Regions from separate parts of the Homo sapiens genome. Here all the other regions are reported to be linked to region 1. Evidence: microRNA targets listed by miRTarBase, many of them from high-throughput screens and not tested one by one. Region 1 holds a microRNA gene; each other region holds the end of a gene's coding sequence.
What was found. The annotated mature microRNA hsa-miR-4279 reads CUCUCCUCCCGGCUUC and lies in region 1 at 1,772-1,787, opposite strand. An mRNA with a match to its seed (bases 2 to 7 or 8) in the 3' UTR can be bound and repressed. Matches are read on the target gene's strand: a 7mer-m8 pairs with bases 2 to 8, a 7mer-A1 pairs with bases 2 to 7 and ends in A, and an 8mer does both.

Region 1 (4,079 bases):
TGCACACAAAAAATGTGGACTTGCCTGGGGCTCCCTGCTGGTGTTTGGAGACTAGGAACTAATCCTCCCATTAGTTCTTTCTCTGCCGCACCAGGGAAACATCATATATACTAGTGACTTTCTGTCTTCTTTATCTCATCAGTAAAAGGCGGATCCTGTTTTTGTTTTCAAGAATGTGTTAGGGTATTGGGATGGCTAGAATCCATTTGGAGCACATGAGAAAATGTATAGCATTTTCTGTTTAGGAGACATTTGAACCATCTAATTAAAAAAAAAAAAAAAAAAAGACTTAAGTCCGGATACTAGACCACCAGTTTTTTAATACATGGAAAATTTAGAAGCAATTTCAAAAATGTCTCACTGTGACTGGAACTAGGTTATGTCAATACAAGGCTCCTAGGGGAAAAATTTATACTGGATAAAACTCTAAAATAAATGAATATACTAAAAAACACCAAAAATCTGGCCAGCAGTGGTGGCTCACACCTGTAATCCCAGAACTTTGGGAGGCCGAGATGGGCAGATCACTTGAGACCAGGAGTTTGAGACCAGCTTGACCAACATGGTGAAACCCCATCTCTACTAAAAATACAAAAAATATCTGGGCATGGTGGCGGGCGCCTGTAATCCCAGCTACTCCAGGAGGTTGAGGCAGGAGAATCTCTTGAACCCGGAAGATGGAGGTTGCAGTGGGCCGAGATTACTCCACTGCACTCCCACCTGGGCAACAGAGCCAGACCCTGTCTCAAAAAAAAAAAAAGAAAGAAAATAGAATGGCTGCAAGAAGTAAACAGAGGATGTTTGCTCCTATTTTGTTCCTTACAAGTATAGCTAACAAAGGACCTTGTGAGTATTGGAATAATAAAATGTCATTCCCATTTAAGTTGCACATGTACATTTTTATACCTGCACCAAAGGTTTTTGGAATCTTTGTCTCTGGCTGTTGGATCATGAAAGACCCCTTTGGCTTCAGCTGTAAAACAAGGCAAATTTTACCCATAATAGAAACTACTATATATGTGTGTTGGTTTAGGGAAGCCTATTTTTTAACATTCTATTTCCTGATAAAACCTTAGAAAAATCATATTGTGTTTAAAAGTTGAGGATTTTTTCAGCAACTCAAGGGCTGACTGATAATTTCTGGTTTTGCTAGTACTTGTCTACAATGGAAGTTGGAAGCTTAGTCGGAGTAGAAAAGTTGTAAATTTGGTGTCATCAAGACAAATGGCTTTTATTTCCCAACAGACTTCTTTATAAAATAATTTAACCCCTTGATTTTTGTTTGCATTTGGATGCAATTTAAAAAAAAATCTGGCCCTTTAATAAGTGCAAGACAGATTAAATGTATTGTGAAATATCAGGTCACTGAGTGGAAAGTTTCTTCACTGATCATCCTAGCTTCACATTTTTAGTTATGTGAAGTACACATTTTGATAGTATTTTGGTTTTCTCCTGCCTGAAATCTTCAGTCCTCCTCCCTGGCAGTCTGTAGAATGAAGCAGCTGTGGTCCGTGGCCAAGTGTGCGTCCTTTGGTGATGGAAGAGCTGATCTGCAGATACCTGCAGGAGGAAGCCATGCATGATGTCTGCTGGGATATGATTTCCCCCCATACTCCTGGAAAATTAGAACCGTTTATAGCAGCCTGGTTCCAATACACTGGCAGGGCAAGGATTGGCTCCTTCTCTTACAAACACAGCGTGGCTGGATGCATTCATAAATGAAAAATGATCTGAGTGCTGTGGGTGGGTGGGGCTCTGGAGCTCAGGAGGTGAAGCCGGGAGGAGAGAGAGAGAATCTGCTCCTCAGCTCCACAGAGCATGGGGAGCTGGCAGGAAGTTGGAGCACGCATGGCGCAGCTTGTATTTTTGTTGATAGTTAATAACCCAGGACTTTAAAGACCTGAATGGAGAAGGGAAGTGAAGCACAACCAACTTTGGAGTCTGTCCCATTCCAGAGGCTGCTGAAGCACAGCAGAGCACGCTCACCTGACCAGCTCATAAAGCAGGTAGGACGGGAGACCTGAGTGGTGAAGAGAATCACATTTTCTCTCTGAACACAACTTACAGGTCTTCCAAGGGTTTATTATTTTTTAATTATATGAGAGATGAGCAGGTAATAATAACATAAAAGACTCAGCTTGAATTGTGCTGATATCTGCCCAAGCAAGAGTTCTCTCAGTTACTAGTGTGATGACCAAATGACAGTTTTATTCTGAGAGTTGCTTTAAAAAAAAAAAAAGAAAAAAAGCATGCAGCATTGAAGCTTTTTTAATTTAAACTCATTTAAAAATTGGCAGATGATAAATGAACTGCAGACACTGTGTTTTAGAACAAATACTTTGAAGGGAGTCAACCAGAAACCGATTTTCAGGCTTGACTGTGGCTCCATTTTCATATTTCAGAGCCAACGAGGTGCTCACTAATTTTTGCTGGCTTTTGTAAGAAAGGAGGTGGATGTATAACAGCTGTGAAATATCCAGAAATTGACTGGGATCCAGAGTGAAGCCCGAATGCACTAATGTTTTCTCCATTAAGGCAGGCTGCCTCTGCTCGGCTTCTAAGTCAAGGGATTGGAAAGCAGTGTGAAAGTGAAGTGTGAATCCTGAATATTTGTCATGGAGTGGGGGGAGTGCAGAGGGTTGGAAACTGTCACAGTGACGTTTCACACTCAGAAGTAGAAAATAAATGGGGAGGACCATGGGTGGCAGCCACATGCAAGGATAATTTTAAAACTGATTTTTGATTCCCATGATTGTAGCCGAGTCTCAGGGTGTTCCTTCCGTTGTCAAGGTTTGGGGCTTGTGATAAGAGAAGTAGAACAGAATAAAGATCATCTCCAGCCCCAGGTTCTGAATCATTTCTAGGCCTTGCTTCTCCTGGGCACTGGGATGATCTGACATGTTTTCCCTCACTAATGAAGTGGCCAGGGTGTTGGGGGATTGGGCTAACATGGAGGAGGTTGGATAGAAATGGTGCGTGTGGTCAGCCTGAGAAGAACGTCAGAGGTAGGTGGAGAATTTTGTTTCGGTAGAATAGCCCAGCCTGAATCCTGGAACTGTTTGCGTTGAGGTTTGGAGAATGCCCCGTAGCCACAGGGGTGTGTCTGAAAAGGCAAAATTGGGAGCTGCTTGGGTTACTGCTTACTGCCTGGCTGGCATCCTCATGCTGTGGTCATCCTCATGCCGTGGTGGCCACGTTTTGTGGCTTTGCATTTTAGTCCTGGAGGGCTGGGGGATGGCTGTGTTTAGTCAAGCAAGCCCACACATCATTGCTAGTCTCTCTTTCCGTGTGATTTCTCAGCATTACACAGCTAGCCTTCTATGGGAGGAGGAACGGCACCTCCTGTGGTCTTTTAGAAAACTTTTTCACCCCATGTTCCTACCGTCGCCACCCCAACTCTTGTCCTTTCTTGCCTACTGTTCACCTGTTGTGTGTGTCCCCTTTGTCTCCCATCCTTCAGACTGATCTGTCCCAGGTGCTATCTGCAGTGACTTAGAAGCTGTGTTGGGGACAGGTTCCTTCCCAGGGTTCCTGCTGGAAGCGGTGTTCAGCAAGCTATGGCCCTTAGGCAAATCCAGACTGCCCTAGCCTGTTTTTGTATGGCCTGGGAGCTAAGAATGTGTTTTATGTTTTGAAGAGTTGAAGAAACAAAGAAGAATATAGGACAGAGATAGTGACCCACAAAGCCTATCCGATCTTTAGAAAAAAACATTTGCTGGTTTGCTGGTTGGTCTGTTGATTTCCGCCCCCATTTAGAGACAGAGTTTCACTCTGTTGGCCAGATTGGTGTCAAACTTTTGACCTCAAGTGATCTGCCCACCTCGGCCTCCCAAAGTGCTAGGATTACAGGTGTGAGCCACTGCTCCCAGCACTCCACCTTGACCTGTTGATTTTTTAATATCATTGGTGAATAATGTGATCAGTGGGTTGATGCAGCAAGTTAAGCCCTCAGCAATTTGAATGGGCTCTTGTTTGGGAAACTGATTTTAGTTTCTTAGTCTGTATTGGTGCCATCGCCTCCAAATGGGTAGATTCAGGAGTTAGGAAGTTGAAGCTTTTCTGCAGGGTCCCAACAATAG
Region 2 (4,079 bases), not on the chromosome of region 1:
AATTCTGCCTCAGCTTCTGAAAGTGCTGGGATTCTAGGTGTGAGCCACCATGCCTGGCTGAAATATGTATTTCTTAACTCCAGACATCTGGAGTATGAATTCCTTAAGTGCAAGGACTATGTCTTCATCTCTCTACTGTCAGTGCCTAGCACAAAGCCTGGCACATAGATGGTTCTTAAAAATGTTTATTCAATGCATGAACAGAAAGACAAATGCCTACTACCAAGTCAGCCTAAGGTTCATTGCAACTGCTTATGCACATACCAATGGCTTGCATATGTCTCACCCCATCTAGGATCATCTAGACCAGGGCTGTAAGGGAACCTACATTCAACAACAGGTGCCATAATATCTAACAATAATGACAGGCTATTGGAAGACCAGGAAAACAACAAAGCTCATGTATTTCACCAGCTGGAAAATTCATCTAGTAAACAGGCTGTTTGAGGAAATCTCTTGACATTGGAAGCATGATGCACACACGACCTTAAAACCCTACCAATAGCTCTGATGGAGGAAAGAAGGGAACCTGAGCTAGCACGTTGGTATTCACGAGGGCTCTTCTGTCCTGAATTGGTCCTCTCATCTCTGGGAAAGAGAAAAGTGTCCCTAAAAACCACAATAGGGATGAGATGTGCCTTCCTAGATTCAAGTAGATTCAGTCTGAGACAGCAATTTTGTTTTTATGTACCAACAGAAAACCTAAACAAGCAGGAAATAAAAGCTACTTCCCTCACTAAAGATATATTAAGGGCCAAATATTTGTTCTAAATTGATTGCTAAGTCTATTAGATATTTTGAAAAGAAAAATAAAACCCCAGACTATTTAAAAACTGAAATCTACAACTGTATGGAGTTCATAAATCTCATTCTTAAGAGTCACCTTCAGGCTGGGTGCGGTGGCTCATGCCTGTAATCCCAACACTTTGGGAGGCCAAGGCGGGCGGATCGCTTGAGGTCAGGAGTTCAAGACCAGCCTGGCCAACATGGCAAAACCCCGTCTCTACTAAAAATACAAAAATTACCCGGGCGTGGTGGTGGGAGCCTGTAATCCCAGCTACTCAGGAGGCTGAGGCAGGAGAATCACTTGAACCAAGGAGGCGGAGGTTGCAGTGAGCTGAGATCACACCATTGCACTCCAGCCTGGGCTACAGAGCAAGACTCCATCTCAAAAAGAAAAAAAAAAAAAAAACAGCAACCTTACCATGTTACAGGGTTTCTTTGACTACATACAGCCATCTGAGGGATGGAGAATGCAACTTTTACTTGCTCGATGGGGTTTCCAACATCTGTTGGAAGAAACATGGCTTCTGAAAGGTGCCTTCTTAAAAATAAAAAAGAAAAAAAAAAACTACAGGTCCAAGTTTTGTTTTTAATAAAAATATTCCTCCCACTCTTAAGGTGTGTGCTTTCTTTTTTGACCTATTTTTCCTTAAATTTGTCTGTAGTTTCCCTGTATCTCTATATTTTTCCTAGTGCAGTAAACAATGCAATCAAAGAAATAAAAACCAGGGTCCACTCTTGCCCCAAACACTGAAGAGGGTCAAAGAGAAGAAATCGCAGCACGGAAAATGGCCCAGCTCTAAATATACAAACAACATTAAAAACAAAACAAAACAAAATAACCCCCCCCCCCAAAGCATTATTATTGACATTCCTGGTACATTTCCTATAATATAATGTTGCAGACAATGCTTCTTTCCCAGGGAGTCCAGCTCACTCAAGAGACATCTAGTTGGTGCCTCAGGAAAGCCTGGGGGTGTTGAGTCCTCTCTGCCAAGCCTAAAGCTTTTTATGATCTCAGTATCTCACAGAAACATCTGTGGTATAAATGAATCTAAAAGGGGACGAAGGCAGGCAGGCACCTGTCACTGTTCTCCAAATCAGCCAAAAAGCTGAAGAGCGTGGGTTCTAGGAGACAGATGCCATTAAGAGTTGAGGGATGGAGGGCAGAACAAGAGGAAGCACCAAATGAGTGGCTGCTTTGGGTTCCAAAGCCAAAAAAATGGCCCCACCAAAAAAGGCAGCTGGTTTCATTGAGGAACTCCCTGCTCTTGGAGCCATGCAATGAAAATGATGGCCTTGGAGCCCCATCCCTGTGACAGCCACAGTCTAAGAACCAGAGCCATTTACATCACATTGCACAGTTTCAAATGAATGGACTGGTCCTAGCTTAGGAGGGTGAGTGCTTTGACAAAGTGTGGAACAAGGTAAGCTATTACCTTGAACCCCAAAGCACAGCTGCAGCATCCTTGGCTTTCCATTTCTTTCTTTTTTTTTGAGACGGAGTTTCACTCCTCGCCCAGGCTAGAGTGCAATGGCATGATCTCAGCTCACTGCAACCTCCGCCTCCCAGGTTCAAGCAATTCTCCTGCCTCAGCCTCCCAAGTAGCTGGGATTACAGGCGCGTGCCACCATGCCCAGCTAATTTTTTTTTTTTGTATTTTCAGTAGAGACGGGGTTTCACCATGTTGGCCAGGCTGGCCTCAAACTCCTGACCTCAGGTGATTCACCCACCTCGGCCTCCCAAAGTGCTGGGATTACAGGCATGAGCCACCGCACCCGGCCTTGGCTTTCCATTTCTGCAAAACCACAGGCCACTGCTGCCACTTGCTCTGTGGAGATGTACCTTCCACTTATTACCACCTTCTTCTCAAAATGGCACTCACGGTACTAACTTTTGGAGATCTCCAGAGGCGTCAGTTGCACCTCTGGAAGTAAGATGATTTCCCTGCCCCATACTTGCCAAAGCACTTTTTTTTTTTTTTTTTTTTGAGATGGAGTCTCGCTCTTGTTGCCCAGGCTGGAGTGCAGTGGTGCGATCTTGGCTCACTGCAACCTCTGCCTTCCCAGGTTCAAGCGATTCTCCTGCCTTGGCCTCCTGAATAGCTGGGATTACAGGCTCCCGCCACCACACCCGGCTAATTTTTTTTTCGTATTTTTAGTAGATACGGGGTTTCACCATGTTGGCCAGGCTGGTCTCAAACTCCTGACCTCGTGATCCACCCGCCTCGGCCTCCCAAAGTGCTGGGATTGCAGGCGTGAGCCACCACGCCCGGCTAGCACTTCCCTTTTTAAGCTAGTGCTGGCATGCCACCTTCCCCTCAAAGCAGAGTCAACTTCCTTTTGTTTGAGAGTTTTGTACTGGCCTCTGTAGGCCCTTTTCAGGATACAAAATAAAGTGCCCTTCAGCATCCACATGCGAGTGGGTTGCCTTCCAGTGTCAGATCTGTGTTCCAGAGTTTGGTCAATGCATCTTTACAAGAATAAAACCACATGCCTACACACACAGACGAGCCTGGAAATGGCTTTCTGGACAGGGTTACTTGTTATCTTGACACTTCCCCTAAAAGAAATTACTTTCTTGGTGTAAGATGATTAGGACATTGAATGACCTACTCTCAACTTCTGGAAGGGCAGCTTGTTTTGTCCATTTTTCAATGAGGGAGTGGGAAGAACCCAACATTTTCAGTTACAACAATAAGATTTTGTTTTTTTTTTTTTAAAAAAGGGTCCTATGTGGAAATGAGTGGGACAATGATAAAAATAAACAAATAATTAAAATTCCAAATCAAAACATAACTCCTGGCCCTGAGATCCCCAGTTAATCCTCTAAGACCACAATCTCCACATTGTGAACTTGATGCTGGTGTTCTTCCATCTCAGCCACAACTTTCTCCTCAGTCCTCAGCTCTGTCTCCAAGATGACTGCTTTGCCCTCAGTATCTTCAGCTTCTGGGTCCGGGGCTGGATCAATCTCAATGATGGTCTGCCCATCCTCTGAGGTGCTTTCAACAGCCTGAATTGCCGAGGTTAGGCCGGACTCCATGGCCACCAATTCCACAGGGCTAACCATGGTGGTCATGTTGCCCAGTGTACTCCCATCCTGCATGGCAGTAGAGCTCAGCAGCGCCAAGCTAGATGAAGGGTGGATGGTCACTGTGTCTGGTGAGCTGCTCTTGGCAGAGGAGACCACTGTGGCATAGCGGAAGAGCTGAGGGCCAGAAGGCAGTGTGTGGACAGTCACAGGACTGGAGCCCTGGCTGAGGGTGGCCACTGGAATATTGCCCATGGAAAAT
Region 3 (4,079 bases), not on the chromosome of region 1:
TGAGCCACCGTGCCTGGCCTCAAAACCCTTAATGTTTTACATGTAAAACAGGGTTTGGGCCCAGGGTTTTCACTTATGCCAATGTCCAGTTGGACATTCTAAAGTTGTGCCTGAGGCTGGGCGCAGTGGCGCAAGCCTGTAATCTCAGAACTTTGGGAGGCAGAGGCTGACGGATCACTTGAGTCCAGGAGTTCAAGACCAGCCTGGGCAACATGGTGAAACCCTGCCTCTACAAAAAAAAATACAAAAATTAGCCTAGCCTTGTAGTGTGCATCTGTGGTGTCAGCTACTTGGGGGGGGGGCTCAGGTGGGAGAGTTGCTGGATCCCTGGAGGTTGAGGCTGCAGTGAGCCGTGATAACACCACTGCACTCTAGTCTGGGCAACAGATGGAGACCCTGTCTCAAAGAATAAAAATAAAAACAAAAAAGTTGTGCCAAGCAGGTTTTTATTTCAAGAGGATATCTTGACGTCCATAGCCCTTGCCCACTAAATGCCAATGGGGTCCCCCATCATTGTGAAAACAAAGCAGTGGCCCCCACATTTACAAAATGCCCCTTGGGGTAGTGCCTTTGCTGTTTGGAACCTCTAGTCTTGGGGTTGTCCTCAGTGGTCCACAGTTCACTGCTGTCGAGCAGAGTTGCTCAGCTTCAGCACCAATGTGAAGATCTGAGCCAGGTTGTGGGGGCTGTCCTGTGCATTGCAGGATGCTAAGCAACATCTCCAACCTTCCGCCCATGAAACCCTAGTGGTGCTTCTCTCCCACCCCAGCTGTAACAACCAAATATGTCTCCAGACACTGCTAAACGCCCCCCTGGGGGGCAAAATCACCCCCATGTGAGATCCACTGCTGTGGAGTGTGGTCCTCCAGGGCTGATGTGCTTTGCACTGAGCCAGGGCCCATCCTCCGCAGAGAGACTGAGCCAGAGGAAGGTGACCGGGATGCCACCTGGGCAGAGCTGCAACAGGCTTGACAGGCCTACGGGAGTGCAGGGCAGAGGCACTGAATCACGCTTGGGGCAGGGCTCAGAAGCCTTCCTGGAAGAGGTGGCCTCTCTCAGCTAAATCTCTTTTTAATTTAGTTTTATTTATTTTGAGACGGAGTCTCCCGCTGTAGCCGAGGCTCATTGCTAAATCTCTAGAGGAAAGAATTGGCTAGGTGGGTGCAGATTTGGAAGACTTAGTATGAAAAAAAGAATGTAAACTATCTCCTTAATACTTTTTAATATCAATGAGGCATTAAGATGAAAATACTTTGGGTGTGCTAGGTTAAATAAAATACGTGACTAAAATTAATTTCATTTGTTTCCTTTTACTTTTTTAATGTGGCTAATGAAAAACTTGAAACTACATACATGGCTCATATGCTATTTCCATCGGATGATGCTGATCTTGAACATCTTCTGACACACAGTAGGTACCCTACAAATATTTGTTGAATGAATACATCTGGAAAACAGCGGCACAGCCCCATCTGGGTTTGTGTGGAGGGGTCTGGGTTGTGGACACAGAACTGTCATCAGAGAGATGGTGCCCACCATAGCATGGATAGTGTTCGGGCATGGCAGTGGTGTAGGCCTGGGGACACCTTCAGTTTCTCATCCAACACATATTTACTGAGCACATACTACGTGCCATGGAAGGGGAGAGAGCAATGCCATCCTGCAGGAGAAGTGCTTTCCCTACGGAAGCGAGGGGCATCCAGCTCTGTCTTGGGGTGGGGGCTACCAGGGGAGCCCTCTCCTTGAAGGTGTCTGTTTTCTTCCCAAGTGACAACAATAGGTGGGTGGGCATTAGCTAGGGGAGGAGAAGGCTGCAGGAAGCAGCGGCTACTCTGGGCAAAGGAACAGCACGTTCAAACGCTTGGCAGCAAGCAGGTCTGGTGCTTGTTAGAAGAGAAAATTCCCTATGGTTCTGAGCACACCTGGAAGCCGGTGCTGTGGAGTCGAAGGCCTGACAGGGGCAGGGCTTCAGAAGGAAGCTTTGTGAAGGCGCTTGACTCACCCTGAGGGCAGGGGTGCTGCCCTCAGTCCCGGGTTTAAGTGGGGGGCGCTATTCAGAAACACCTCCCACTGCTGTGTGGGGCACAGGAGAGCTGAGAAAGACGCCAGGAACTCAGAAGGACAGGGTGGGGTGATGGCGGGGAACGCACAGCCTGGTAGGCAGGATGCGGTGAGGCCCGCAAGGTGCAGTCCGATGACGGCCCCTGGATTTCTCGCTTAGGTCCTGGGTGATCTTATGGAGAGCAGCCCACTGGCTGGTGAAGGGGGAGGGCAGACGGGAGGGGAGACACAGGAGGGGGATGCGCTGCATAGGCAGCAGCTCTTCGAATGCCCGCAAGTAGGAAGAAGGGGGTGGTTGGAAGGGAAGGCAGGGCCGGGAGCGCGTGTGTTTTGGGAGCTTTCTCCTGAGGACAGAAGGGACTTTCCCGTTTATAGCCTGGGGGAGCAGTAGCGGCGGGGAGGATGAAGATGGAGGAGGGAGGCATAACACACGTCTGGGTTGCCCTCTGGCCCGCCGCCCACCCCCACCCCACCTCCATGAAAGCGCCCAGCCCCCGCCTCGCCACAAGGGGTACTGTGAGGATGTTGCTCATAGGCTCCCGAGGATTGAGGCCTGCCCGGGGAAAGGGAGCCTCTCCTCCTCTTCCCTCCCTGGGCGGGGTCTCTTGGGAGGGGGGGACAGACCTCCTGTGATGCCCTGGCAGGTGGGCTGGGTTAGGGTGGTAGGGAGGGAGCCATTGTGGCTGCAGCTGGCATCGGATCCTGGCCACCCCCGCAGTGCATATCAGAGATCACACACACACGCGTGCACACACAGAGGTCACGCCGGATGTACACATGCACACATAGCGCACAAGGATGTTTCTGTGTACAGGTGTGCACACGCAGCCCACACAGAATGGACATGTGCGTGTGTGCACAATGCACTCACACAAAGCTCACAGGGATGTGAGTACACAGCTCTCAAGGGGCATATGTTTCTGTGTGCATGTGCACACAGCTCACCCGGGAGGGTTACGTGTGTCTGTGTGCACAAGTGGGCCTCACGCAGGGTGTACACATGCGCGCACATGCACAGCGCTCACACAGGGTGTACAGGTGCGCGTGCACACAGCTCACAGTGCTTATGTGTCCGTGTATGCACACTCGCAGAGAGCCCACAGGGGGACCACTCTCTCTCTGAACACAGAGAGTGCCTGAGAATGCTGGCATCACAGTTGTTTTTGTCCCCAGTAAAACAACCACTCTCCACCTTCCGCTCTGTTCTCCCCCTCGGGTCCACTCTCTCTCAGGGTCCTGGTCTCCTTCCTTTCCACCTGGGTGGTGGCATCCAGGACCTGCCTGAGTTCATTCTCCGCCCCCAGCCCGGCCTGCCCCAGGTGCCGCCGGCAGCCACTGGGAGGCAGTACGAGGCAAGTGCGATGCCGCCCGCGGGCCGTCCCCACAACGCGTCTCCTGCCGGGGCAGGTCCCGCGACAGCTCTGGTGGAAGCAGCTTCCGGCTTCTGCGGTGCGGGCGGAGGTGGCGGGGTCCGGCCCTCGCCGTCCAGTCCGCGCGAGGCGGTGCCCGCCCCTAGATGGCCAGATCTCGGCGGCCGGTGGCCGGTGACGCCTTGCCGCGGCCGCTGCCGCACTCGCGGAGGCTGGCCGGCGCCGGGTGCGCATAGGCCGGCGGGGCGCACGGCTCGGGGCCGGGGCGCCGGGAGGGCAGGGCCGGTGGCGGAGGTGGCGGCGGCGGCGGCGGGAGCAGCTTCTGCGCCTCTTCGTGTGCACGGTTGCAGCGGTTGTCACGCTCCCCGGCGCGCGGGCGGCCCTTCCAGAGCAGGTGGCCCAGCTCGGCTACGCTGAGCAGCGCCGACAGCAGCCCCACCGCGAAATAGAAGAGCACGAAGACGGTCTTCTCGGTGGGCCGGCTCACGAAGCAGTCGACCGTGTGCGGGCAGGGCGGACCGGCGCACGCGAAGTGCGGGGCCACGCGGAAGCCGTAGAGCAGCGCCTGGCCGCCCAGGAAGGTCAGCTCGGCCAGCAGGCGCAGCGCCACGCTCAGCAGGTAGCAGCGGCGCGCGCGGCGGGCGCGCA
Region 4 (4,079 bases), not on the chromosome of region 1:
AGAGTGCCCCATCTTGAGTTGGTTGGGATTCTTGCCTCGTTTATACAGAGCCCATAGTCCAAACCCAGATCCAGTCACATTCTGCCATGAGCACCTGCCCAGCCCAGTGAAATGCAATGACAGTGTGACTCTGTACTCTCTTCTCTCCTTAGGTGAGGAGGAACCTCCTGCCCTTCCTTCCAAGCTCCTCTCTTCTGGGTCATGCAAAGCAGATCTTGGTTGCCGCAGCTACACTGATGAACTCCACGCGGTCGCCCCTTTGTAACAAAACGAAAGAGTCTAAGCATTGCCACTTTAGCTGCTGCCTCCCTCTGATTCCCCAGCTCATCTCCCTGGTTGCATGGCCCACTTGGAGCTGAGGTCTCATACAAGGATATTTGGAGTGAAATGCTGGCCAGTACTTGTTCTCCCTTGCCCCAACCCTTTACCGGATATCTTGACAAACTCTCCAATTTTCTAAAATGATATGGAGCTCTGAAAGGCATGTCCATAAGGTCTGACAACAGCTTGCCAAATTTGGTTAGTCCTTGGATCAGAGCCTGTTGTGGGAGGTAGGGAGGAAATATGTAAAGAAAAACAGGAAGATACCTGCACTAATCATTCAGACTTCATTGAGCTCTGCAAACTTTGCCTGTTTGCTATTGGCTACCTTGATTTGAAATGCTTTGTGAAAAAAGGCACTTTTAACATCATAGCCACAGAAATCAAGTGCCAGTCTATCTGGAATCCATGTTGTATTGCAGATAATGTTCTCATTTATTTTTGATGTAGAATTTACATTGCCATGGGTGTTAAATAAGCTTTGAGTCAAAAGTCAAGAAAGTGACTGAATATACAGTCACCTTTTATGAAATGAGTCTCTGTGTTACTGGGTGGCATGACTGATTGAGGTGAAGCTCACGGGGCCAGGCTGACCGTCTTGACCGTTCCACTTGAGATAGGTTGGTCATCGTGCAGAAGGCCCCAGGACCTCAGCACACACAGCCTCCTCTTGGTCTGAGTAGGCATCATGTGGGGGCCAGATCTGCCTGCTGTTTCCATGGGTTACATTTACTGTGCTGTATCTCAGATGTTGGTGTCTGGAAGTTTATTCTTAAGAGACTGCTACCCAGCTGGTCTGTATTATTGGAAGTTGCAGTTCGTGCTTTGGTTGGCCTTCTGGTCTAAAGCTGTGTCCTGAATATTAGGGATCACAATTCACTGAAATACAGCAGTGTGTGGAGGTGATGGCCAGTTAATCTGCTGAACTGGTTTTGACTAATGACAAACCTCTTTTTAAGATGGTAGAATGGAGGTGATAGTCACAAAAGTAAATGTTCCATTTTTATGAATGACTTTCTACAGAGTTTCTATTTCTAAAGAAAAAACAATTGTTCACATCCCATCTGATGATTAGCATGTGTGTAATGAATGCTGTCTTGGTCTCCCCTGTGGAAACCCTTCTCCCTGTGCCTTAGAGCAGGTGTGTACATCTCTCACTACCTTTCTCATGGGTGCTGTTAGATTTTGGCACCCGTTTTCTCAGCATTCAGCCCAGGGAATGTGGTTTTCACTTCTTCGTCAGATAAGACCAACATGAAGGGGTATGTTGAGAAACATCCTGAGGCAAGGTGGGAGGTGGGATGGGGCAGGACTTTCCCTTCCAAGCACATGCATGGCAGGTGGGGAAAGGGGGGCTTGCACCCCTGCTGGAAAGAAAAGGTTTGTGTATATTTCTGATGCAAATGTCATACTCACTGCTCTGTAAAGGCAGCTGGCAGCTTTTTGGGAAAAGAACGTGCTCGTCTGTTCTCTGGCATCAAGTTTCTTGCAGCTGCTCTGAGGGAGAGACAGTGAGCTGCAAGACTGCCTCCCCATAACAACAGGCAACTCAGAGAAGAGTCATTTTATGTTGTTCCTATGGAATCTGGAATGAGTGCAGAGCTCCTACCCACACATGACTGCCCCGCCATTTCATCCTAGGCATTCTGTGAAGGAGATTGGTTAGTCCAAACTTGCTAACATACGAAAATTCACTTGGAACATGATGAGAGATTTCTTATTGAGGCCAAGAGATGTTTCCTGTCCCAGAGGAACCATTAGGAGTCGCTTTTAGGGTATTCAGCTTTGTTCATGAAATAAGGCATCTCTGAGAAAGTGGCCCCAGGGAGAGAATGGAGGACTGGGAGGAGAAGCATTAACTGAGCTCCAAGGGTGTGTGGGCAGAGAGCTTGCTATGTGAACTCACTCCTTAAGAAAATGGAAGAGAAAAAGAGAGTGCTAGTTAAAAAATCGGGATGTTTTAGTTTGGATTTAGGGTTTTGATACTTATGTTGAAATACTAATGTTTCTGATCAATAAAATCAAACTCTTAATATACCGAGTAATGAAACCATAGTGTGATTGCCTCAGAATAAATTGAGAAGTCCAACTTCCTAGTTTTGTTTAATTAGTTTCACTTTTTCTACTCTCCCCAGTATGCTAGAAATGGGAATCGTTGCCCTGCAGATTACGGCAAAACATCTGTTTTAAGCAAAGCTGCATTTTTTGACTCAGAAATTGTCCCAGACGGTGGATATAAGATGAAATTCAGAAAAACGTTCTGCCAAGTCACAGGCTTTTAGATATTATGGAAACAAGAAATGGAAAACAGGATGATCTCCATGAGAGGCCTTGATCCTGAGAGTAAAAGGCTTGTGTAGATAGGTTAGACAACGTCCTCTAGAAAAGAGACCAGGGATAAGTCCAGGTTTCCAGGAAAACCAAGAAGCCTGCGGGTAGCTGAAGGTAGAGTGCTAGTTGTTCATCTTAACTTACCAATGAGCTACAGAAAGGACTTAGCATCTGATGTCATCAGCTTTGCCAGGAGAGTGATCAAGGAGGTTAAAGCTCAGGTAAAGGTGTGCCTTCTCAGAGATTGGCTACAAGCAACAGAGACCACCTCAACAGAGACCACCTCAACAGACTCAGCCCAGCCATACAAGGTGCCAAAGCTCCTCCAGAGGGCTGTCTTGGGCCTTTGAGGCAATTGATCTCCAGAAAGAGTCAGAAGTCATTCCAGTCCAGGCCCAGGTATTCAGATGGTGACCCAGCCAGATAATAGTATCTTGAGCAAATAATAGTATCTTGAGTGCAAATAAGCAGGAAGACTGTCCTTCAAAAAATGTGGGGTTACATGATTTTCAGAGCCTTTTTTTCAGAGTTGAGCATCTTTTCTTTTAAAAGAAATAAGGGGCAAGAGGACCAATTTTATTCCTTGAGGAAAAATGACACACCCTTCTCCCAAAAGAAAGAAAACTCTCTGGCCCCCCAACTTCAACACTAATTTGGCTCCCTGAAGAAGAGAGAAAATATTATTTCTGTCTTTATTGAAGAGAAATGGGCAATGCCAATGTGAAGGTTACTAGTCTTTTTTATTTTCTATTGGTGAAGACTACTACTGCTCTTATTTAGCAGATCTTATACCTTCAGTGGTCACCAGTATAGCAGGTGAGGTATAAGGAAAACAGCAGTGTGATGATAAATGGTAATTAATATACTTTGTCTGTGTCAGCAATAGGGAATGGTGGGGACTGTGGCAAACTGAAGCGCCCCTGTTCCACCCACAGTGGGTAATTTTCCAGTCGACTGTGGCCATGAAGTACTTCCTGATCTTCCCATTTTTCAAGAAAAGCTGACAATCTGGATTTTTATATGAAAAATTCTGATTTTAAAAAATATTGGCAACTAAGTTAAAATTCAAGTGAATTTAGACCCAGCAGAAGACATGGATGGACCTGATTTGGTCCACTGACTACCAGTTTGTTAACCTGTGCTTTATAAGATTTGAAGGAAAGGCATTCATGGTAATTACAGACGGTGCCACCAGAAAATGCTCTTGCTAAATGCAGCCAGTAGTTAGATTGCTTCTTTCTCCAGTCTCCCCCGCAAAGAAATTTGACGTGATTCTGAATGCACTGGACATGTCTTGATTGCGTCTTTACATTTCACAGTGTCTTAAAAGAAAGGCAAGCCAGTTGTTAATTTCAGAATCAGATTTATGCTCTCTCAATTTAAAAAATGCTGGGAACAATTTCATTTTTTTTTTTTTGAGATGGAGT
Region 5 (4,079 bases), not on the chromosome of region 1:
CCAATATCAATGATGTTACATACTCATGATTTGTGTACTTTTCTTTATGTATGTGTGAGCAAAGAGTTAATAGCAGGTCTGTACCATTTTTCTCCCAGAACTATGCCTGCTTGGGAAATTTTAGGTTTGTCTTATCCCAGCACGAGTTTCTTGTAAATGACCCAAATTAAGATAAATTTGGAATATTGGGTACCAGGGACAGACATCCATTTTGTGCACTGTGAAACCTACAATCTATGGGACAGTACATGGGGCTGGGAGACCTGTGAACCGTAGGCCTATATGACTGGTGGGAAACCCACATAGAAGCTTCTTTGCATCAAGGCAAACCCCCACATACCACAACCTCATCCAAATACCACAAGCTCATGCACGCTCTTTAGGCAGGTGAGGAGGGACCCAAGCATCATGCATGCTTAATTTCCTGTCCTGTATCCTACTATAAAGCTAAGCAAATTTAGTGCTAGGCTAAATGCTATTGTATCTCATCAGTTTGCTTGCCAGTCCAAACATGTTCCCAATACCATGGTGGTACCATGTATTGCACTTCAATAAAAAGTTTACTAAATTCCTTTATCTATTCTTGCCAAAAGGTTATTTTCACTGATTATATATTCCGCTTGGCCTCCAAATTCCTTCCATTTTTCTGAGCCTCCTCGCTGTCTGTTGACCTCCTATATTCTCCTTTTTAGGACTCTACAATTGACCCCTAAACCTCCTATTCATTTTTTTATGCAGAGCTGTTTAAATATTGCACTATCTCACCTCAAATGACCCAGAGAACCCTCATATCAATAACTAATATTAAGATTGGTTGCAAAACATAGTTCCTTTCCAGGAGAACTTGTATAACTATCTCTTTTTTTTTTGACAGAGTCTCACTCTGTCACCCAGGATAGAGGGCAGTAGCACAGTCTCAGCTCACCGCAACTTCCACCTCCTGGGTTCAAGCAATTCTCCTGCCTCAGCCTCCCGAGTAGCTGGGATTACAGGCACGTGCCACCACGCCTGGCTAACTTTTCGTATTTTTAGTAGAGACAGGGTTTCACCATGTTGGCCAGGCTGATCTCTAACTCCTGACCTCAGATGATCCACCCGCCTCGGCCTCCCAAAGTGCTGGATTACAGGCATGAGCCATTGTGCCTGGCTGACTACCTCTTAAGGAAACTTTTTTGTTTAGTTAGACAAAGAATGGTAAATCTCTTTCCACGCACATTCAAAATTCACACATTATCTGGACTCTTAGTTACCTAGGACATACCCCCAGTTATTCTTGTACCTAATTTGGTACCTCAAATTTTCCCGAGGTGTTAAAACAAAAGGAATAGAGCTTGCCTAGCACCTTAGAAGTGCTGCACCCTCTTAGAAGTGCCAGGCACTGTCATAGTTGTTGCCCTCTTAGAATGATTTGCCTCTGGGTGTCACTCTTTGCTCTGTACCTGGTACAACTATAGTGATGGCAGATGCTCCATACTCAGTCCTAGCTTTTCAGTGTTTGGCTTTGCTGGGTTTTTTCTTTCTTTCTTTTTGAGAGAAATGGGGACTTCCAAGCTGAGTAAAACCTGGAAAGGGCAACTTACTGCAGCCATATATTGATACTACATTATTTCCTATGTCATAATATTAACCTCCCTTCCATCTGCTTTTGCTGTTTAGTAGTCTCATGTCTTCTTGAGCTAGACTATCTTATGTAAATTCATGTTATGTGAATTGAGGTCTCAGTAATAACAGCCTTCTGTCTTTCCTCACCGTAACAGGAGTCATAGGAAAGGGGGTGTGATAGTCTCAGAAACAGCCTAGCATCTCATACAAACTTGTTTCTGTTTTTGAGACAGGGTCTCGCTCTATCACCCAGGCTGGAGTGCAGTGGCACAATCATGGCTCACTGCAGCCTTGATCTCCTGGGCTCCTGTCTCAGCCTCCCAAGTAGCTGGGACTACGTGCATGCATGCACCACTACACCTAGCTTTTTTTTTCTTTTTTCTTTTTTCTTGTAATAGAGATAGGATCTCACTTTGTTGCCCAGGCTGGTCTCAAACTGGGCTCAAGTTATCTTCCCACCTTGGCCTCCCAAAGTGCTGGGATTATAGGCATGAGCCACCACATTCAGCCCAAACATTTCTGAGACCACTACTTGAACTATCAAGTCTCCTCTTGTAACTGATTCTCATTAGAAATAATACACATTTATTGAATGTCATTGATATATAAAGATACCATTCTTTGAGTGGGGGAAATATAATTTAAAAGTCGCAACTACTGACAATCAACAAATAAACTCTAATGAGAATCATAAAGCTTGTTCCCAGAGAACCATGATACAGGGTGGGACAGTACGCAAATAATGGGCTCCTGTTGTCAGACTTCATGGTGATTACATTAGTGCTTTCTCCAGTATCTTTCTTCCTATTGTACTCCTGAAGCACTCAGAATGATAAAGATAAATTTCTGATCATTCCTACAAAGAGTGCAGGCAAAGTTAAGATTTAACTGTGATTGCTGGTTGTTTCATCTCGAATTCAAAATCCTGGATTTCCGAAACAATGGAGCTTGATGTCACATTTGGCTATCTTGCTTTTGTCTCCTCTTCTGGAAAGAACAAATCATCTTCCTGAAAATTACAGGAGACACTTAGTATGACAAAATAAGGCCTCTGAAACTGTCCAATCTCACATGTAAAAAGTGTAAAATCACAGAACTAAAATCAGGTTCCGGATTTTCCTGGAAATAGAATGTCACCGGGATCTGTTCAAAGGTGAGCTTTGGCTACATTTTATAACAGTGTTTAAAACTCGAATGCAAAAAACTGCTTTCAATATAATCAGATATGTGCAAAAACAATTTGTTAAATAACATGGGAAGATTATATTAACAAAAGACATTTCCAGAATACTAACATTCATGTGATTTATAAAGGTGCATTTTCTGTAAAGAGCTATACAGCCCAAAAACATGAAATTCTTCAAGGGAGTCCCCTTTATCCCATGAGTTGGAAGAATTTATTTTCATATTCTATGCATGGATCACTGAAGTGATGAATGTCACTCGTCTTCAAGAAGGAAGCACTCTCAGCCTTGTGAAGAAGAACCTCAAGGGTTCCTGGGGCTATGATCATGAAGAGCACCACAATGAAGACTGCTGCGAAGTCTTTTTCACTTCTTCACATTTGGGATGTGAAATATTTTACAGAAAAATAAGAGTGTGCAAATCCCTCTCACACATAGAAAAACGATTGTGTGAATATTCTTAAATTTTTAAAACTTTTAAAAACTGTGATCTTTGCACTGTTTTCAAGAGTCAGCAACTCTGAAGAAAGATATTCACCATAAGTGACCCCATATGGTGAAGATATTCACAATAAATGACAGTTTTGCAAGATGACTCTTTGGGTTGGCATTCTGTTTCCGGTCACCAGGTTTCCGCAATCTCTGTGACAGCCCGCAGCAGCTCGGCAAATGTAGGGCGGCCTTCAGGTTTCTGGAAAAGGGAAGTGGGGGTGGTTAGCTCAGCTTAACCAACTTATGCCAAGGGTTCCATTTTTGGAACGCTAAGCATGTGGGAGTCACTTATATCCCACTGCTCGAGGTCATCGCCAAGGTCTGATTTTTCACTCATGCAAAAATTCAAAAAATTGCCACCTGCGGCATAAATAGGCTAAGGATCACTCAGAGACCAGCTCTGGAACTTGCTGGCAGAGACCTGAATCCAGGCTGGCTCTTCACAAAAAGGAAGAGAAAGATATCTTGACTGACTGACATAGCACAGCATGATTGGCAGTTGAGTGAGGCGTGAATATGAAAATGTTAGAGAATGTTGCAAAAATAAAACGGCTAGACCTGCAAACACTAGCCACATGTGGCTATTTAAATTTAAATTCCTTAAGATTATATAAATGTTTAAATTCAGTTACTCAGTCGTGCTAGCCACTTTTCAAGAACCCAATAGCCAGAAGTGGCTGCCATATTGGGCAGCACAGATATAGAACGTTTCAGCATCTCAGAAAGTACTCTAGGACACCACGACCCTAGAGATATATTTGAATGACTTGACATGTGTGAGGTAAAGAAAGGGCTGGGAGA
Region 6 (4,079 bases), not on the chromosome of region 1:
CCTGAGTAGTAACGACTACCAATTGGGACTTGCCATCAAGAAGTTCTACAGCTTCCGCCACATCAGCTTCCAGGACTTTTTTCATGCCATGTCTTACCTGGTGAAAGAGGACCAAAGCCGGCTGGGGAAGGAGTCCCGCAGAGAAGTGCAAAGGCTGCTGGAGGTAAAGGAGCAGGAAGGGAATGATGAGATGACCCTCACTATGCAGTTTTTACTGGACATCTCGAAAAAAGACAGCTTCTCGAACTTGGAGCTCAAGTTCTGCTTCAGAATTTCTCCCTGTTTAGCGCAGGATCTGAAGCATTTTAAAGAACAGATGGAATCTATGAAGCACAACAGGACCTGGGATTTGGAATTCTCCCTGTATGAAGCTAAAATAAAGAATCTGGTAAAAGGTATTCAGATGAACAATGTATCATTCAAGATAAAACATTCAAATGAAAAGAAATCACAGAGCCAGAATTTATTTTCTGTCAAAAGCAGCTTGAGTCATGGACCTAAGGAGGAGCAAAAATGTCCTTCTGTCCATGGACAGAAGGAGGGCAAAGATAATATAGCAGGAACACAAAAGGAAGCTTCTACTGGAAAAGGCAGAGGGACAGAGGAAACACCAAAAAATACTTACATATAAACCTAATTAAATATGTACAAGATCTCTATGAGGAAAATGACAACACTCTGAGGAAAGAAATCAAAGAAGCTGTAAATGAATGGGAAGATTTTCCATGTTCATGAATAGAAAGACTCAATATTGTTAAGATGTTAGTTTTCCCCAGTTTGATCTGTAGATTCAATGCAATCCCAATCAAGATCCCAGCAAATAACTTTGTGGACATTGATAAGATGATTCTAATGTTTATGTGCAAAGGCAAAAGACTCAGAATAGCCAATAAAATATTGAAGAAGAACAAAGTTGGAGGAGTGCTGCTATCCAACTTCTTCCTACTATAAAGCTACAGTAATCAAGACAGTATGGTATTGTTAAAATAATAGAGAAATCAGTGGAGTAGAATAGAGAACCAGAAACAAACCTACACAAAAATGGTCAATTGATCTTAGACAAAGGAGCAAAAGCAATTTAATGGAGAAAGTTTACTCTTTTCAACAAATGGTGCTGAAATAACTGGACATCCACATGTAAAAAAATGAATCTAGATGTAAAATACAAAAGTACTAATATAAACTGCTAGAAGATAATATAGGAGAAAATCTAGGTGACCTTGGGTTTGGCGATGACTTTTTAGATATAACAGCAAAAGCATGAATCATTAAAAAAAGAATTAGTTGGCTTCATGAAAATTAAAAACTTATGCTCTGTGAAAGACACTGTTAAGAGAATGAAAAGATAAGCCAAAGACTGGGAGAAAATATTTGCAAACACATATCTGATAAAAGACTTGGGTAAAAAAAAATACAAATAGCTCTTAAAACTCAATAATAAGTAAAGAGTCTACTTAAAAAGTGAGTAGGAGGCCCAGGCTGGTGGATCACGAGGTCAAGAGACCGAGACCATCCTGGCCAATGTGGTGAAACCCCGTCTTTACTAAAAATACGAAAGTTAGCCGGGCGTGGTGGTGCACACCTGTAGTCCCAGCTACTCAGGAGGCTGAGGCAGGAGAATTGCTTGAATCTGGGAGGCGGAGGTTGCAGTGAGCTGAGATCGCACCACTGCACTCCAGCCTGGCAACAGAGTGAGACTCTGCCTCAAAAAAAAAAAGGTGAGTAAAAAGATTGGAACAGACAGCTTATTAAAGAAGATACACAGATGGCAAATAAATATTTGAAAAGACGCTCAACTTCATATGTCATTAGGGAATTGCAAACTAAAACCACAATAAGATACCATGACACCCCTGTTAGAATGGCTAACATCCCAAATCCTGGCAACACTAAATGCTTGTTAGGATGTGGAGTAGTGGGAGCCTTATTCATTGCTGGTCAGAATGCAAAATGGTACAGCCACTTTGAAAGACAGTTTGGCAGTTTCTTACAAAGCTAAACATAGTTTTACTATATGTAAGATCTAGCAATTATGCTCCTAGATATTAACCCAAGTGAGTTGGAAACTTATGTCCACATAAAAACCTGCACATGAATATTTATAGCAGCTTTATTCGTAATTGCCCAAATTTGGAAGCAACCAAGATGTCCTTCAATAGGTGATGGATAAGCAAACTGTGATACATCCACATAATGTAATAGTATTCAGTGATAAAAATAAATGAGCAATTAAGACATGAAAAGATATGGAGAAGCCTTAAATGCAACTACTAAGTGAAAGAAGTCAGTCTGAAAAGGCTACATACTGTGTAATTCCAAATATATGCTCTTATGAAAAATGAAAAACTATGGAGACAATTAAAAATCAGTGGTTGTCAGGGGTTCAAGGAGAGTCAGGGAGAGATAACCAGGTGGAGGCACAGGCACTTTAGGATAGTAAAACTATTCTGTGTGATATTATAATGATGGAGTCATGACATAAATTTTTCAAAACGCATAGAGCTGTACAATACAAAGAGTGAATCCTAATGTAAACTGTGCCTTGTAGTTAATAATAGTGTATCAAAATTGGTTCATCAATGATCACAAATGTGTCACACTAATGCAAGATGTTAATAAGAGAAACTTTGTGAGGGGGTGGTGGTGGTGGAGAGGGTATATAGGAACTTTCTGTATTTAAAAAAAGTTTTATTGAAGTATAATTAGTTTAATACAATAAACTGTGCATATTTAATATATAAAATTTGATGAATTTGTACATACACATACATCTGTGAAACCATCACTACAATCAAGGTAGAAGACATAACAATCCCCCCAAAAATGTTCCCGTGTCCTTTTATCTTTTTGTGTGTGTTAAAAACACAACACAAAATTTACCCTCTTATAAATTTTTAAGCACATAATACAGTATTGTTGACTATATGTGGGAATTCTGTACTTTCCACTCAATTTTTCTTTAAACCTAAAATTGCTCTTGAAAAACTAAGAAAATCTGAATTAAGTATGGACTTTAGTTAATAAAAATATGGTTAACTTTACTGATATATAGGATATTAAAAATATTCTGGGTTTTAGGTCATTTATCAGTTAATATGTGTTACACATATCTCTTCTTATTTTTTTGGCTTGTTTTTTCAGTCTCTTGATGCCTTTTGATAAATGAGTTCTTAATTTACTCATTTTTTCTTTTATGATTAATAACTTTATTTTCTGTTTAAGACATTTTCTATCCTGAGAATATAAAATAATCTCCTATATAAACTTCCAGAAAGTTTATTGCTTTACTTAACATATTTAGTCTGGTAAACCACTAGGAATTAATTTTGATGTATGATGTGAGATAGATAAAGTTTTATTTTTTCCCAGTAGTGATAATCAGGTGGTCTAATACTATTTATTCAAGAGATCAACCTTTCTCCACAATTCTGCAGTATCACCTTCATCATAAATCAAGTGTACATAAGTCTCTTCTGATCTCTCTATTCTTTTCCATTGATCTATTTGTAGATTCTCATGGCAAATACCATGCAGTTTTTATTATGGTAGCTTTGTAATAAGTCTTGCCACCTGGTAGTGGAAGAACAACAACTTTTCTTCTGGATTTTTGTGGCTATTTTATGTCCTTTGCATCTACACTTAAATATTAGAAGCAGTTTGTCAATTTATAAGAAAAACATTAGGATTTTTGGGTTTTGATTGAAATTGCATGCAATCTATAGATCAAATTTGGGAGGACTGACAATTTTATAATATTGATCCTTCTAATCCATGTACATTGGTTGTATATAGCTCTACTTTTTATATACATTTGATGTCTCACAGCAATATTTTGTAGTTCATATCTTTCGATGGTATTTAATACAATTCTAAGTGCGATACTTAAATTTTTATTTTCTAATTGTTTTTACAATTAGCTTTTTATCAAATTTTTTTAGTACATTGATCTTCTATATTGTCATTTCCCCAAATTTACTTATTTTTTAATAGCTTAAGAGCAGACTTTTTGGACCTTATATTGACACATTATGTTGTCTGCAAATAATGACAGTTTAATTTCTTCATTTCTAATCACTGTA
Region 7 (4,000 bases), not on the chromosome of region 1:
CACTTCGGGAGGCCGAGACGGGTGGATCCCGAGGTCAAGAGATCAAGACCATCCTGGCCAACATGATGAAACCCCATCTCTACCAAAAATACAAAAATTAGCTGGGCATGGTGGCATGTGCCTGTAGTCCCAGCTACTCGGGAGGCTGAGGCAGGAGAATCGCTTGAATCCGGGAGGCAGAGGTTGCAGTGAGCTGAGATCAGGCCGCTGCACTCCACCCTGGTGACAGAGTGAGACTCCGTCTCAAGAAGAAAAAAAAAAAGTTAAAAGAGAAATAGGCACAAAAAAAGGTATCCAGGTATGTCTAAGTATTTTATTTGTGGGGCAAAAAAAGATACCCAGGGAATCATTATTGAACAAAAAGACAAACCTAAGGGAAAAATTATTTTTCATAAATTTAAGTTTAGAAAAGTTTCTTTAATGATAAAATAATCAACTCCCTTCTCACAATGGAAAGTTCTACATGATCTTAAGGACCAAAATATCATGATCTGAAAAGCAATATGGAAAGTTATTTGCAGTACAAACTATCACATTTACTTAAAAAGCAGCTGAAGTTGCTTTTTTCCAGGTATATAGGTAACATTTCACACCATTCAATACTACCTTCCTTTTGTGAAACATTTTCTTCTGATGGCTTCCAGAATACCAGCCTCCTGATTTTTCTTCTAGGTCACTGGTGGGTCCTTCTCAGTCTTTTGCTGGTTCCTCTTCTCCTCTACTTCTCAATGCTGGCATACCTTAGGTCTCTGTCTTTTGCTACCTTCTCTTCTCTAGCTGTACTAGGTGATCTCATCCAAAGTCATGGTTATTCCCTAATGACTCCCAAATTAATTTTCTAGTCCCAAATTGTACTCTGAAGTCCAGACTTGGATATCCAATTGCCTACACAGCATTTCCAACCTAACATAGCCAAAACAGAATTTAATCTCAGAGTTCACCCAATTGACAGGTCAAAAATCTGAGTCATCCTTTACTCCTCTCCTTTTCCTCCTCATATCCAAGCTATCAGCAGACATTATCTTCTCTACTTACAAAACAGAGTCTGAATCCAACCTCTAACCCCTCCCACCTCAACATTTATCACACTTGTCCAAAACTGTTACCTAGGACACTATAATAACCTAACCAGTCTCTGCTTTCCTCTTTAATCTTCTTCAGTCTAACCTTGACATTGTAGCTCCATATTTCATAAAGGTAAATCAAATTATGTCACTCCTCTTCTCAATCTAATTGCTTCCCATTTACATATCCATGCCAGGCTATAAGGACCTGGCTTTCTTCCTTATGTCACTTCTTACCATTCTTCTCTCTTAATCACTATGCTGTAACCTTACTGGCCTCTTTGTTATTCCTCAAACATGCCAAGTAAGTTAACATTTTAGGGCCTTTTCACTTGTTTTTTACCTTTGTCCAGAATGCTCTTTCCCCAAATATTTATATGACTCATATGCTTACTTCACTGGGGCCTCTGCATATGTCATCTCTTCAAACAGGCTTTCCCAAACCATCTTATCTAAAGTTTCAACCCTCTCCACATTCTGTCCCAGTGGGATTCATCCCGGGATGCAAAGATGATTCAGTATACACAAATCAGTAAATGTGATATATCATGTTAACAGAATGAAGGACAAAAGCCATATGATAATCTCAAAAGATACAAAAAAAGCATTTGACAAAATTCAACACATTGTATCCCTATTCCCTGCCCTTTCTTTATAGCATTTGATATATGTTATTGTCTGTCTTCTCCATTGGAATGTAAACTCCATAAAAACAGGTACTTTGGGCTGGGTGCAATGGCTCACACCTCTAATCCCAACACTTTGGGAGGCCAAGGCGGGTTGATCACTTGAGATCAAGAGTTCAAGTCCAGCCTGGTCAACATGACGGAACCCTGTCTCTACTAAAAATACAAAAATTGGCTGGGCGTGGTGGTAGGTGCCTGTAATCCCAGCTATTCGTGAGGCTGAGGCAGGAGAATTGCTTGAACCAGAAAGTAGAGGTTGCAGTGAGCCAAGATCATGCCTCTGCACTCCAGCCTGGGCAACAGAGTGAGACTCCATCTCAAAAAACAAAAACAAAAACAAAAACCCGGGTACTTTGTATTGGTCACAACTGTATAACCAGCACACAGAAGAGTACCTGGCACAGAGAAAGGAGCTCAATAAATATTTATTGAATCAATTAATGAGTCAATGGACGAGTGGGATTTCTAGTCTGAACGCCATCCAATAATATAGTTTAGGGTTTGTTTTTTAAATGGGGAAAAAAAAGAACCCCAAGTATGCATCCTTAAAGACAAAAATTAATTCAGCTTGATTCTTCTCAAATGATACGAATTTTACTAGAAGGGAGAATTATTCAATAGCATTGAGGTAATTTTTTTTTTTTTTTTTGAGACAGAGTCTCGCTGGAGTGCAGTGGCGCGATCTTGGCTCACTGCAACCTCCGCCTCCCGGGTTCAAGCGATTCTCCTGCCCCAGCCTCCTGAGTAGCTGGGACTACAGGCACGTGCCGGCATGCCCGGCCAATTTTTTGTATTTTTAGTAGAGACAGGGTTTTACCATATTGGCCAGCCTCATCTCGAACTCCTGACCTCATGATCCACCCACCTTGGCCTCCCAAAGTGCTGGGATTACAGGCGTGAGCCACCACGCCCAGCAGGCAAAATTTTATAGTACATTTTCAGCAAGATATTCTAGCTATTATTAACTTTTTTAAAACTTCAGAATTCCTTCTGAAAGTAAAATTTCAGTTAGTTTATTTAGTCCTTACACTTAAAAACTGAAGCTACAGACACACACATACACGCACACATACACATATACATATACAATACACACAAACAAAATAGAGCAGTTCCATGAAATCAGACATATACGGGAATGTCTTGATTACCCAACAAATCCTCTCCCCTTCCTTCCCTCATCAAATTGCTATGATTGAAGGCCCAGGAAGTTACCAACTACTTAGGGCTTTTAGAGTCATACACATGTTGCATCCTGTTAACTTGGTGTTGGTGCTGTTGCTCACAGTAAGAAAAATGGCAATATCCCCAGAGACAGCAAAGTATTTTGCATGTTTATGTCTGTGAGTTAACTGTCACCACATATTGCCTGCTGTCTTCCATCAATGCAGCTCATAGTACCCAAAAATGTGAAAAAATCCTACCACAAAACAGATGTGTCTTTTTACATACAATTTGGTAGAACGCAGAGCCTGATGATGAAGGGGTCATTTTTCACTGGTAGGCTAAAAAAATCTAAATTTTGAAAAATCAGTTAGGCACACCAAGGCTCTCCTAAGCCATGAACAGAAGGCCAGTCTGAGTACTCCTTGAGGATGGCAGTCTGTCAGTGAAATGAAAATGGGAACTCAAGATGAGCCACTTTGCTCTAGCAATGAGGAGTGAGTTTAGTCCAGTGTGTTCAGTTTATGTCAACATTCATTTAATATTGATTGTTGCAGTTTATGCCCTCTGCTCTGGGAATGGAAGAATGATGAACACTACTTCTTATAAAAAGTTTCAAGCCTTGTAACCCCTGTGAAAATAAATAGTCCAAATACCAGCTCCATTTCTTTCCCTGCAGGCACAGAAAAAGGAAAATTACTTATCGAATATTTTACTATGCTTTTTCTCTATTTCCTCCTCTTTCCCTAGGAAGAGTTTGCAGCATCCCGCATGCACATATCAAAATTAGTTCGGGGGGGAAATGAGCTCAGTCACTAAGTAACATTTAAACCAGAAAGTACCCAATTCCAAGGGCTAAACGTCCATTTTATTATGTTGGCAAAAAAATTTAAGTACTGTGCAATGGAAATGTGTCATCATTCTCACACTCTAGGAGATAACATAGGAGCAGATATTATTATATTACTGCCTATATTAAATGTGTAAATAGCAGTTTTTGATAATGAGATAATTATATATATATATATATATTTTTTTTTTTTTTTTTTTGAGATACGGTTTTGCTCTGTTTGTTGCCCAAGCTGG

Region 2: miRTarBase lists GMEB1 as a target of hsa-miR-4279. Seed matches in the 3' UTR shown: 7mer-A1 at 2,864-2,870 and 7mer-A1 at 2,367-2,373.
Region 3: the mRNA of GJD3 is a reported target of hsa-miR-4279. Seed matches in the 3' UTR shown: 7mer-m8 at 2,635-2,641 and 7mer-A1 at 2,401-2,407.
Region 4: miRTarBase lists IL17RD as a target of hsa-miR-4279. Seed matches in the 3' UTR shown: 8mer at 2,166-2,173.
Region 5: miRTarBase lists TXK as a target of hsa-miR-4279. Seed matches in the 3' UTR shown: 7mer-m8 at 2,581-2,587.
Region 6: miRTarBase lists NLRP10 as a target of hsa-miR-4279. Seed matches in the 3' UTR shown: 7mer-A1 at 1,201-1,207 and 7mer-A1 at 1,614-1,620.
Region 7: miRTarBase lists CENPI as a target of hsa-miR-4279. Seed matches in the 3' UTR shown: 7mer-A1 at 2,473-2,479 and 8mer at 712-719.

Annotation. Positions count from the first base shown.
Region 1 is chr5:31,934,341-31,938,419 of GRCh38, forward strand. MIR4279 (microRNA 4279) reads right to left here and starts at 1,819; the gene lies at 1,762-1,819. All of the region lies in intron 2 of PDZD2 (PDZ domain containing 2), which reads left to right.
Region 2 is chr1:28,714,299-28,718,377 of GRCh38, reverse strand. GMEB1 (glucocorticoid modulatory element binding protein 1) reads right to left here. Exons shown (of 10, transcript NM_001319674.2): 10 at 1-4,079. The coding sequence ends at 3,605. Among named protein-coding and RNA genes, the nearest start is that of YTHDF2, 21 kb to the left of the region's middle.
Region 3 is chr17:40,359,358-40,363,436 of GRCh38, forward strand. It overlaps GJD3 (gap junction protein delta 3), which reads right to left. Exons shown (of 1, transcript NM_152219.4): 1 at 1,295-4,079. The coding sequence ends at 3,574. It overlaps GJD3-AS1 (GJD3 antisense RNA 1), which reads left to right and starts at 3,488. Exons shown (of 1, transcript NR_186704.1): 1 at 3,488-4,079. RefSeq lists an enhancer at 3,300-3,594 and silencers at 3,422-3,491, 3,612-3,691, 3,722-3,831.
Region 4 is chr3:57,092,579-57,096,657 of GRCh38, reverse strand. It overlaps IL17RD (interleukin 17 receptor D), which reads left to right. Exons shown (of 13, transcript NM_017563.5): 13 at 153-4,079. The coding sequence ends at 265. Among named protein-coding and RNA genes, the nearest start is that of SPATA12, 34 kb to the right of the region's middle.
Region 5 is chr4:48,064,229-48,068,307 of GRCh38, forward strand. TXK (TXK tyrosine kinase) reads right to left here. Exons shown (of 15, transcript NM_003328.3): 15 at 2,165-3,477. The coding sequence ends at 3,409. Among named protein-coding and RNA genes, the nearest start is that of NIPAL1, 49 kb to the left of the region's middle. RefSeq lists an enhancer at 193-242.
Region 6 is chr11:7,956,196-7,960,274 of GRCh38, reverse strand. It overlaps NLRP10 (NLR family pyrin domain containing 10), which reads left to right. Exons shown (of 3, transcript NM_001391958.1): 3 at 1-2,738. The coding sequence ends at 631. Among named protein-coding and RNA genes, the nearest start is that of NLRP10, 7.2 kb to the left of the region's middle.
Region 7 is chrX:101,162,420-101,166,419 of GRCh38, reverse strand. It overlaps CENPI (centromere protein I), which reads right to left. Exons shown (of 22, transcript NM_001386188.2): 22 at 294-3,587. The coding sequence ends at 3,453. Among named protein-coding and RNA genes, the nearest start is that of DRP2, 55 kb to the left of the region's middle.